Linked DNA regions of Homo sapiens: all the other regions are linked to region 2. Evidence: fine-mapped expression QTL. A gene starts in region 2. Each other region holds a variant in brackets. All regions are shown on one strand. Distances are from middle to middle. Region 1 holds the start of SUMO4 (small ubiquitin like modifier 4). Region 2 holds the start of TAB2 (TGF-beta activated kinase 1 (MAP3K7) binding protein 2). Region 3 overlaps TAB2-AS1 (TAB2 antisense RNA 1).

Region 1 (4,000 bases), 84 kb before region 2:
GTGGGAGGTGTCTGGGTCCTGGGGATGGATCCTTCATGAATACCTTGGTGCAGGTTTCTCAATAATGAGTGAGATATTGCTCTGAGTTCATGAAAGATCTGGCTGTTTAAAAGGTGTGGCACCTCCCACTGTCTCGCTCACCATATGACATGCCTCTGCTTGCTTCCTTCACTTTCTGCCATGAATAAAAGTTCCCTGAAGCCTCTCCAGAAACTAAGCAGATGTCAGTGACACGCTTCCTATACAGAAAGCATGTGGGTATCGGTGACATGCTTTCTGCAGAACTGTGAGCCAATTAAACCTTTTTTCTTTATAAATTACCAAGCCTCAGGTATTCCTTTACAGCAACACAAAAATGGATACTACATTAGAACTTCCTGTACTACGTTGAAAATAAGTGGCAAGAATGGCACCCTTGCTTGTGCCAGATCTTAGTGGGAAAGCTTTCGGTTTTCTCCATTGATTATATTACCTATGGGGTTTTTATATATGGCCTTTATTAAGTTCCTTCTATATGTGTATGTGTATGTGTGTGTGTGTGTGTGTGTGTGTGTGTGTGTGTATATATATGTATATATATGTGTGTGTATATATATATATATATATGTGTGTGTGTGTATATATATATATATATATATATATATATATATATATTTTTTTTTTTTTTAGACAAGAGTTTCGCTCCCGTTGCCCAGGCTGGAGTGCAATGGCGTGATCTTGGCTTACCGCAACCTCTGCCTCCCAGATTCAAGCGATTCTCCTGCCTCAGCCTCCTGAGTACCTGGGATTACAGGCATGGGCCGCCAAGCCAGGCTAATTTTGTATTTTTAGTACAGACAGGGTTTCTCCATGTTGGTCAGGCTGGTCTCAAACTCCCGACCTTAGGTGACCCACCCGCCTCGGTCTCCCAAAGTGCTAGGATTACAGGTGTGAGCCAGTGTGCCCGGCCTGAGAGTTTTAATTATGAATAAATGCTGAACTTTTTCAAATGCTTTTTAGCATCTATTAAGATGACTACATGGTTATTCCTTTCATTTTACTTCAATGTGTGTGCTGTATCACATTAACTGATTTGTGTATGTTGAACCATCCTTAAGTCCCAGAGATAAACCCCACTTGGTCATGGCGTATGGTCCTTTTAATGTGCTCAGTTTGGTTTGCCAGTATTTTACTGAGGACTTTTTGCGTCTATGTTCATCAGTAATATTGGTCTGTAGTTTTCTTTAGTTGTAGTGTCTTTGTCTGGTTTTGGTACCAGGGTGAGGCTGGCCTCAGAATGAGTTTGGAAGTGTTCCCCCTTCTCATTTTTGGAAGAGCTTAAGATGGGTTGGTATTAATTCTTGTTTGAGTGTTTGACAGAATTCACTCATGAAGCCATCCAGTTCTGGACTTTTCTTTGTTGGGAATTTTTTTTTAAATTTCTAAATCCATGCTGGATATTTGTTGGGAGATTTTTGATTACTGATTCAATCTCCTTATTTGTTATTGGTCTACTCAGTCTTTCTAATTCTTCTTGATTCAGCTTTAATAGGTGATATCAATTTTTTTTGGATATTTTTTGGATAGGAATGTATCAATTTTTTTCTAGGTTATCTAGTCTGTTGGCATAAAATTGTTCCTAATATTCCCTTATGATCCTTTTATTTCTGAGGCATCTGTTGTCTTCATTTTCATTTCTGATTTTGTCTCCTTTTTTTCTCAATTTATCTAGCTAAGGGTTTGTCAATCTTGTTGATTTTTTAAAAAACCTCTTAGTTTTACTATTTCTTTTTCTGTTGTTTCTAAATTCTCTATTTTTGCTCTAATTCTTATTATTTTCTTCATTATGCTAACATTAGGCTTAGCTTGTTGTTCTTCTACTGGTTCCCTGAGGTATAATTGAGATCTTTCTTTTTTTTTTTT[TA/A]ATGTAGTATTGTTTATCTCTAGAAACTTCTCTCTTAGTACTGCCTTTGCTTCATCCCATAGGTTCTAGTATGCTATGTTTTCCTTTTTGTCTGAAGATACTGTTAAGATTCCCTTTTGATTTCCTTCTTGACTCAATGATTATTCAAGACTGTGTTTAAATTTCCACAAATTTTATGGTTTTCTTGCTGTTACTGATTTCTAGTTTTATTCCACTGTGGTTAGAAAAAATACGTGGAATGATTTCTATCTTCTTAGGTTTGTTTAAACTCGTTTTGTGAACTAACATATGATCTATCCTACAGAATGTTCCGTGTGTGCTTGTTCAAATCAGCTGTTTCTTTATTCATTTTCTGCCTGGATATTCTATTATTGTAAGGGGGGTATTGAAGTCTCCTACTATTGCTGTCAATTTCTGTCGTCAGAACTGTCATTATTTGCTTTACATATTAATGTAGTCTGATGTGGGGTGTGTATATATTTATAATTTTTATATTTTTCTGTGGAATTGATCCTTTTACCATTACATAATAATCTTTGTCTCAAGTTTTAGACTTAAAAATCTATTGTTTCTGATATAATTATAGCCACTTTTGATTTCTTTTAGCTACCATTTATATAAAATCTTTTTCCATCCCTTCACTTTCTGCCTATGTGTGTCTTTAAATATAAAATGAGTCTCTTGTAGATAGTATATTATTGGATCCTGTTTTTATTTTTATTTCATTTTAAACAAAAAGTTTATTTAAATAAGAAGCCTGACTTGAAGGAAAAACTTTCTAGGATTCTTTCTTTTTTTTTTAGAGTAATTTATCCCTACTTAAAGACAGATTGCCCTACATGTAACAGCTATGTACACAAAAGTTATAAAATTGTCCTTGGTTTTACAATGATAAATGAAAAACATGAAAATCCTCCAATTGAACAAGGTATGTGAGAATTTTTTTTTGTTGTTGTTAAAACAGTGAGAGCAAAATAACTTACTAGAATATAAAGATAAGACCTGAATGAACATGCCACTAATGGATAAAGGGGGTATTTTCACAGAATCAGTATTTTTTCCCATCCTGTCTCCACTTGATGTCAATCAAAACATACCATTGGCTGTTTGGTTTGAAGAAAAAAGCAATATGCTTGTGTACACATACCAGTTACTTCATGTATAATAAAAGAATGTGGAAGGGGGAAACAAAAGAATAGAGAAAACTATACTGTAGTAGTCAGAATGTGGTGGAACCAAATTGCAGTTTTCTAATTGAGAATGCAGTAATCTTGGTCTTTAAAGAACAGCGTTCTGGAGTAAAGAAGCAGGTTCCCTTTTCAGTAGACACCTCCCGTAGGCTGTTGAAACACATCAATTGTATCTTCATCTTCCATTTCCAACTGTGCAGGTTTGTCTGTTCCACTGATTGGTTGCCCACCAAATCGGAATCTGATCTGCTTCACTGACAATCCCCGTGGTTCACAATAGGCTTTCATTAGTTTACTAAGTGGTGTCTGCCTCTTAATCTTAAACTGCACCACAGAACCATCCTGTCCCGCCACCTTCAAATTAATATGATTGTTGTTCTCAGTCTTGACTTCTTCTGTGGGCTTTTCGTTGGCCATGGTGAACACCGGAGTCTCCTCAGCTGCTGCTTCACAAAAGAGGTGGCGGGTCCGCACCTAACGAGTACACGAGCAGCAGGAAGAGCAGCAGGAGGTGACAGCGGTGGATGAGGGAGAGGGTGCGTGCACATCCTGGGCTCCCTCCCCTCCCGCTGTGTGCGCCAGCACGAGCTGTTGGGGCCTCCCATTGGCTGCTGCCAGATCCTGTTTTTAAAATCCATTCATACAACTCCTTGTGAGTGGTGAGTTTAATCCATTTCCAGTTAAGGTAATTACTAATAAGTGAGGACTTACTATTGGCAGTTTGTTGCTTCCTGTCTATTTGACAACTGTTTTGCTCCTCTTTTCCTCTTATTGTCTTGTTATTCGACAACGTTTAATCGTGATTTACTTTGATTATATTTGGTTATACTCTTCTATTTTAAGTTGATAACAACTTAACTTCAAATGCATACAAAAATACTACTGCATCTTTACAACCTCCACCCTC
Region 2 (4,000 bases):
CTATGGGGGAAAAACCCAAACAGAAGTTCTGAATCACTGGAATTTTTGTTCTATTTCCTGTTAACACATTGATAGTACATCATATTCGTTCCATACATGTTTTTTTAAAGCAGCAGAATCCTTAAACTAACTGTACCCTAATTTAGCCTATAGCTCATGTATCTAACAATTCTTCCCATTGTTTCTAATTAAAATGCTCAGCCAAAGCCTACAACAAAAGAAAAGCAAGTCTTCCTTTATTACAAACTGCCATGGTTTCAAAATTTACAGTTTCAAACCGTCAAAAGTTTAAAATCGTGATTTCATTGTTACAAAGAATGTAAAGATATTTTTTAAAAGGTGTCAATACTCTGCTACTGTATGAACAGTGTAGTAAGCAGAAGTGAAAAAACTGAAAGCAAATATTCTATTCCATGCCCACTAAAATTCCCGGCCAAATCTGGAATTGCATAATGATCATCATAACCTTTAGAGTATGCTAAAGCGGAAACGAAATTCCTTTTCTAAAATGTGAATCAATCTGACCCCAAAATTAGACACTTTACAAACTTACCTAAAACAGACAAAATGGATGCAAAATTATATTGCCGTACAGTTGCTCTGAATACGATCTTAGCGTTCAAGAACTTTCCAATGAATAAGGGTACTCAACAGCCTGCACTGGGGGCCTAAATTTCGTGAACTACGGAGAAACCCCTGTGAGGCTGCAAATTCCCTCCGCTCTCCTGGAAAACCCTCTTATCAGAAACATTTGAAGAATTTATCCACAACAATTAAGCTGACTTGAAGAATGGAAACCTAACATCTCAAATATACTATATATGGAATGAAACATGGCCAAACACATAAATACAAACTCACACGGTCTCTGACACTTTGGTGTACGACTGTGCCTGAACATCTCACAGCATCAGCAACAGAAAGATCCACCTGTCACCTGTTCAGCACCGCCAAGAGACCCTTGCAGCCTCCCTGACTCAACCACAATCGTAGGGTTTGAGGTTGATGGGACCGAAAACCAGAAACATCCAGTGAAATTTAAGGGGCCACATATTCATAGTAGGGCTTGCCCCCCACTTCAAAGACGGCTGCAGAAAACCAAGATCCGCAAAGGAACGATGTTCTCCCTCCCGCCCGACCCCCACATAACTGCCCCGTGTCTGTCCCCAAAACCCCCGCCCCTGAGTCATCTTTAACTAGACCTCGGCTCCCCAAAAGGAGATTTTTCCTCCCCCGCCCCCACCTCACACATGCCTGGGGGCGGGTCAGGGGCGCCGACGCAGGGAGGGGCCCTCCCGAGCCCCTTGCGCCCTCCCCCACCCGGGGCTCTCCTAGGCGCTCGATTCCAATGAAGCTCCCCCTCCCCCCCCGCACGGACGCCCCGGAGCCCAGGCCCGGCCCGATGCTCCCCACCCCCACCGGACTGGGGGACTCGGGGGGCCTCCCTCTCCGCCACGCCACTGGGGGAAGGAAAGAGGCGGAGGGAGGAAGAGTGCAAGTTAGAAGCGAACGCCCCGCACGGGCCTCGCGAGGCGGCAGAGCCCCTTCCAGACGGAGGGGGGTGCGGGGCGATGAGGGGAGAGCCAGGTTGGGGATCCCGCCGAGGCCCGGCAGCGCTGTCCGCTTACCCTTTGCCGCCGCCGCTTCCCCCTCCTCCTCCTCGGCCGCCGCCGCCGCCGCCTCTCCCACTAGGGCAGCCGTCTCCACCGTCGCCTCCGCCACCACGGCCGCCGCCAGCGCCGCCGCCGCCTCCGGTTCCACCCGGCAGGGGGGACACCTCAGCCCTCCCTCCCTCCCCGCTCAGCCCCCTCCGCTCGCCCGCCGCCGCCAACTCCCTCCGGCCGCCGCCGCCGCCACCGCTCCTGGCTGAGGGGGAGGGGAGGGGGTCGGGCTGGGTCGCCCCGCCGGCGGCTGCAGCAGATCAAAAACGACGGCTGGGCGGCGTCGCCGCTCCCCAATCCTCAGCTCCGGCTCGCTCGGCCTCCCCACCTCCCTCTGCCCCCACCCCCCTCGCGCTCGCCTGCCCTCCCCCCACCCCCCCAGCTCTCGCTCGCTCTCGCCGCGGCTCCGCCAGCCCAGTCCAAATCAAAATACTGTCACACAATATGGCGGCGCGGCGGCCGGCAAACACCGCGAGATCTGCAGCCGCGGCTGAGGCGGCGGCTGTGACGAGGCCTCCCCTAGCCGAACGGCGGGGGAGCAGCAGGCGGCGGCGGCGGCGGCGGCTGCGGCTGCGGCCCGGGGATGCTCTTCCTCCGACCTGTACCCCTCCCCCGACACTCGCAGTCTCTACGCCTGTCTTGCTAGGGCTGGAGGGAGGACGCGGGCCGCCGCTGGGGCCGTGCGAGGGGGGTGCCGGTGCGGGCAGCCCGGGGAGGGCTGGGACCCCCTTTCTCCGCCTGGGCCCCCCATCCTTGGGGGTAGGTTGCGGGTTCCACCTCCCGCCACGGGGGCCGCTAGCAGTTTGGGCTGAGGGAAGAAAGGAACTGAGCTCGCGTCCCAGCTGCACCTAGCGGAGGGGCTGGCCGGGTCCGGAAGTGGGTGGCGGGACTTGCCGGGCGGCCGGCGGCGCCGCGCGGGTGGGGTCCGGGGGCCCGGCCGGACCCCGGGGCGCTGCGGCGGCCGAGAGGAGCAGGTGGGCCCGCGGCGGAGGCTGGCGCCGGGTCGCTGCGGTCCGGGACACACCCCCTTGGAGCCGGATCGCACCGCCGGCTAACGGGAGGGACCCGTGCAGAATCGTCCCTAGGGTGTGCGGGAGACGTCTTGGGAGCCTCACAACTGGCAACTTCGAGACTTGGAAAAAGTGTCGGCTTCTGACTTTTCTTGAGCAGTTGAGGGGGAAAAAAGAAATCTAAATGCTGCGAGGGTTTCGTTGTTTCGATTTTATTTTAATTGCACGTTCCTAGAAGTCCTAGAAGCAGAGCCAAAGACTAGCTTTGCGGGAAGAGGGGGGGCCTTCAAGTTTCTACCTCCTTAAATAAATATTTGTTTAGTGTCCCCCTAGGGAAAAAAAAAGCGTGTTTAATACTCAGACGTTTCTCACAATGTGAAATATTTATTTAAAAATTCTAGCGCTTCCATGGTGTCCAAAACACTAGGGCATTTTTCTGCCCCTGTCCAAAATGTCCATATCCCTGGCAGTTTCTTCCTTGAAACAATTCTTACTCCAGAGAAAAATCCTAAAGGACCATTTTTATACTTTTATTTCCAGTGTGAGCACTGTAGCTACAGTGAGAATTTTTTTTAAACCATCTTTTAAATAGTAGAGCCTTCCTCACAGTTAAAAGTTCTTTCTCCCCACTTCCTTTTTCCTCATTCATCCTTTGAAAATACCTGAAGTCTGGGCTATAGCACCAATTCAAATACTTTGCCACTTCAAAAGCTGAAAGTACTTATGATTTACAATATCGGAATTTAATTATTCTCCATTGGTGATACCATTAAGAGAAGCAAAAGTAAAATTAGGATTTACAAAATTGGGAAGATTCTAGTTTTACTGGCGAGAAGAAATCATTAACTTTAACGCTTTACAGCAGTTCTCTGAGGAATTATTTCCATACTCAATGATAAAATAATTGATTAAATAATTTTAGATAAACTGAATCCATTAAGTAAATTTCACTTGTCTTTGAAACCATTATAAAGTACAGAGGCAACAATTGCTTTTGAAATGGTAGGATGATGTATTTTATGCAAATTTTTAAAAAAATTTATGGAATGTACATGTACGTATTTTAATAGAAATATAATGCTTTATAGATTATAGGTTTGAGCAGGTCAAGTCTAAAAACCAGTGGGGGGCAAAGAAGGTACATATAACAAATACATCCTTGCACCAGCAGTGCACTTAGAGCTATGTAGTCATGAGGAAGCATCAGACAAACCCAAGTAGAGGAAAATAAAATATAAAATAACTAGCCTGTATTTTTAAATCATGACCAATGTCATAAAAGACAAAGACTGCAGACTAGAAAAAACTAAAGACATGGTAACGAAATGC
Region 3 (4,000 bases), 75 kb after region 2:
CCACCGCCACCGTGGACTATAAGTCACTTGAGGGCAGGAACCAAGCCTATTCATTTCCGAGTTGCCGGCCTTTGGCACAGTGCCCAGCATGTAGTAGAGGCTCAGTTGAAGGGGTGGAAGGAAGGATAGAAGGATAAATCCATTCCTGAGATCCCTTTTATTGAGGCTGTTTCCCCAAACACTGGAAAGCCTCAGCCTTTGTGTTTGTTTTCTGGTACAATAGCACCTGTTGGTGCTTACCTTTGATTGGTGTACATTGTCTAATTGATCTTTCTATCAGTCATGTTCCAAACTGAAGTTATGTGCTTCTTTGATCATGGGCTGTATCTGCTTTCTTTGGTGTCCTTTTCAGTTGCCCACTGGAAGAGTCTTTCCATTTGCCACACTGGATGCCACACTGGATGGGATAATCTAGGAGGGAGGAACTGTGGAGATGGTGCGCCTTGGGATGTCCAGAAGACAGTGACCAGAATTTCAAGAGATGTTTTCAGATTTCACAGTATAATAAGAGAAAAGGAGCCAATCCCTTAAATGAAGAACCTTCAATCACTTCTCCCCAGGTGCACGTTTCAATTTCATTTCTTTTCATCAACTCCTTCCCTTTGATGATGGGTTGCATTGAAAACTATTAAGAAAAGTAGGATATTTAAAATGAACTGTGTTAAGAAGAGGATCATTTCAAAGAATCTATTCTGAGGAAGTGCCTTCAGCCAATCAAAAAGCTAAAGGTAAGTCAATAAGGTGAAAGTACTGCCTATCCTCATCCTGTTGGAAATATTACATTATATAGTTAAAGTTGTCTCCTGTGTTTTAGGTTATGGAGGTGGGGGAAGATTTGTACAAACTTATTTCCATTTCTTTGCACACAGAAACTGGATATAATGTGAATCTAGTGTAAATTACCATGATGTCTCCTTCAACATTCATCAAGACTTCTGACTAGTCTACTTGATCTGTGAAAATGAGATTACTTGAAGACCTGTCACAGATTTTAAAGCAGAACACGATATATTGATTATACAAATATTTTTATGTCACCCTGTATCTTAATAAAATAACATTTACGTCTGGAGAGTGTGTCAGTCTGAAGAGCCTGCCCAAAGCCAGATCTATATATTTAAATCGAGAAAGGCAGAGGCCGTGCTGGCAGTCTTTCAGCTTGTCCTGCTTCCATGATTGGACATAGATAATAATAATTTTGGGTGCATACGAGCAGATTTCGGAGAGAAGGGAATGAACCCCTGTGTTTACACTATGAGTCAGCAGGCAGCTATTTCAGAGGCTGAGACCAAGAGCAGGCATAGCCGATTCCTTCTCTCATTTTAGAATTCAAACCTATGTGGAGATTCTGATGGAATTACAGATGCAGATCCTAATTTCTGGGAATTTCAGTTTATAGCAAGGTGATGAAAGGGTGCTTCCAGAGTGAGCATGGGAGAAGCACCTTCTGGGAGAGAACTGTTGTCATTTCCCAGCAGGGAAGAGACCTGTGAGGCCTGCCATCTTTGCGTGGTGTGACCAGGGGCTGGGCATCATGGGGATTTGATGCCTTTCTTTGGGGATGAGTCTAACTGCCCCATAGAGAAGAGACGGGC[G/A]GCCATCCTTATGTCACATTCTCTTCTCCATGGCAAAACAATCCCGAACCAGAGGCTATCTTGGGATTCATAGACTTTGGGGCTGCCAACAAGGAAGAGCTACAGGTTCTTCCAGAAAAGTGTGTGTCTCACATCGAAATTCTCTTAAACCATACATTCTGGGGCATTTCCATTTTTGGAAGCTCAACCTCAGAGGAAATGCCTCTTTTGGGGTATTGTGGGACAGTCATGAAGTCTTCAATATTCTTTCATTGGGAGAAATTTATTTCCTGTTCTACTCACAGGCAACTTTAGGAACTCTATAATAACACCTACTAACAATTCACAGGAAAAAAATAGGTTTATTTAGATTTCAAAGTGCTAATAGGCTTTAGTTTATACTTAAAGGTTACTTTCTATTGGCACTAGTATTACTGTAACCCTGGGTGATTATTTGAGTTATTTCAAACCTTAAGGGAGTATTATGATATTATATTCCTGTGGAAAAAGAATTAATCAAACTTGATAAAGATGAGTGTTGGGTCCATGAAACCAATACAGCTAGAGACCAAAGACTGGAATAGGTATCATCAAAATGATCCCTTAGTTTAGGCATGTTCTTTACAAGAGCATTGTTTCAATACACATATGTGGGATAGGCAGGAAGGAGGGCCATCCCGAGCAGTGACATCCATATCCTGCAGAGATTCAGTTTCCTAATGGGAAGCTGGAGCCCAATGGCACCAGGCAGATAAGGTTTGATGGGGAGAATGAGGGAGGAAAGTCCAGAGCCTGGGGAAGGCAGTGGGGAACGCAGTAGCCAAGGATGACCTCGGGGCCCCCAGGAGCAGCCTTACGGGGCAGCAGAGAGAGGAGGCACGGGCTGGAAGGCTGAGAGTGGGCTTCAGGTCCAGTTCACTTCTTCCCCAATTCTTTCTACTTTCTACTCGTATGTGTTCAGAGAAGCCATCCTTAAGTCTGATTCGGTGGCTAGGTATATATTCAATCAGACTCTAATGCTTTGGCTTGAGCTATAATAAAAATCACAATTTCATCTGTAAATCATTCCAGATAGCGTAATATGGAATTAATTTCTGGTTATATTTGCTTGGGAGTCTTTTATGCAGTTTTGAAAATTTGCAGGGAGTTCAGCCTTGCTTTTGATTTAATCTCATTTTCGTCATATTTCTACCCACAGCATTGAAATGGTGGCTGGCAAATGGAATCAATTTGCAAGCAGACTTTAAAGAAGTCCATATTTAAGCTAAAATATCTTTGCAAATATTCAACCTTTTCAAGCATTTATTGGATCAGTGTCTGATAGAAAGAAACAAATACAACAATTTATAATGCCACTTTAAAAACATTAAAAATCATTTACAGTACGCAGGATCAACATCCTATTGATTAAAAGAGTATAGGCAAAAAGCCACTATTAGAAAACAACAAAAAAATGGAGAAGTGGTTTGCCTACATATATCATCAAGTGTAACTATTAAACTGAGCCCAAAATCTATTGTTTTAGTCTGCTCAGGCTGCCCTAACAAAATACCATAGACTGGGTGTCTTAAACAATAGTCATTTATTCCTCCCAGTTCTCGGGGCTGGGAAGCTCAAGATCAAGGTGCTGGCATGGTAGATTTCATTCTGAGGCCTCTTCTTGTGGTGTGTAGGTGGAAACCTTCTTGCTGTGTCCTTACACAACCTCTTTTTTGACCTCTTTTTTTGTGCTTGTGTGAAGAGTGAGAGAGCTCTTGGTGTCTCTTCCTCTTTATATGAGGGCATTATCACTATTGGATTAGGGCCCCACCCTTACGACTTAATTTTACCTTAATTACCTCCATAAAGGCCTTATCTCCAAATATTGTCACATTTGGGGTTAGGGCTTCAACATATGCATTTAGGGGAGGGGCATGACCATTTAATCCATAACACGTGTCATAATTAAATTTGTAGCTCTACATATTTATATTAGTTAAAATATAGCCATTTGATTTTATTGTACTTTAAAATATATTTGACTTTATGTTAGCCCAAAAATAATAAACAAAATTGGACAGACATTACACTTAAAACATGTTCATTATATGCAAATTATACTACCATAAAGACAGAATAAAAATATAGTAGAAAGAGTAGAAAAATAAAGTAATTGTTCTTGAATCTCTCTAGGCAGCAAGCCTAAGATGTTATCACTATCCTTTTATAATGATGATGATGATGATGCTATTATTCTACAGTTTTATAACACTTTACAGAACATTCTGATCCACCTGACCTTATTTACACTGGAGTTCCAGAAACTCTCCCGAAGGCATCTGTCTGTTGAATTGTGAAGGGTTTGCAGCAGAGAGGGGCTAACTGGGCAGTTTTCTGCATTCTGTGGGTGCAGAAATGTCCCCCTTGTTTCATAGACTGGAGGAACC

The links. PIP is the estimated chance that this variant, and not a neighbour inherited with it, causes the effect.
Region 1: its variant is fine-mapped to the expression of TAB2 in whole blood (INTERVAL, PIP 0.93).
Region 3: its variant is fine-mapped to the expression of TAB2 in whole blood (TOPMed, PIP above 0.99). The same link has a PIP of 0.9 or more in T cells and blood mononuclear cells.

Annotation. Positions count from the first base shown.
Region 1 is chr6:149,399,902-149,403,901 of GRCh38, reverse strand. The region is part of intron 6 of TAB2 (TGF-beta activated kinase 1 (MAP3K7) binding protein 2); the gene reads right to left. SUMO4 (small ubiquitin like modifier 4) reads right to left here and starts at 3,640. Exons shown (of 1, transcript NM_001002255.2): 1 at 2,624-3,640. The coding sequence starts at 3,510. The coding sequence ends at 3,223. The variant TA/A (reference allele first, on the strand shown) is at 1,903.
Region 2 is chr6:149,315,644-149,319,643 of GRCh38, reverse strand. It overlaps TAB2 (TGF-beta activated kinase 1 (MAP3K7) binding protein 2), which reads right to left and starts at 1,932. Exons shown (of 7, transcript NM_001292034.3): 1 at 1,629-1,932. RefSeq lists enhancers at 600-709, 870-1,049 and silencers at 1,140-2,039, 2,130-2,669, 2,720-2,789.
Region 3 is chr6:149,240,354-149,244,353 of GRCh38, reverse strand. It overlaps TAB2-AS1 (TAB2 antisense RNA 1), which reads left to right. Exons shown (of 3, transcript NR_149096.1): 2 at 353-728; 3 at 870-1,071. It also overlaps a transcript of TAB2 not described here. Among named protein-coding and RNA genes, the nearest start is that of TAB2-AS1, 15 kb to the left of the region's middle. The variant G/A (reference allele first, on the strand shown) is at 1,596.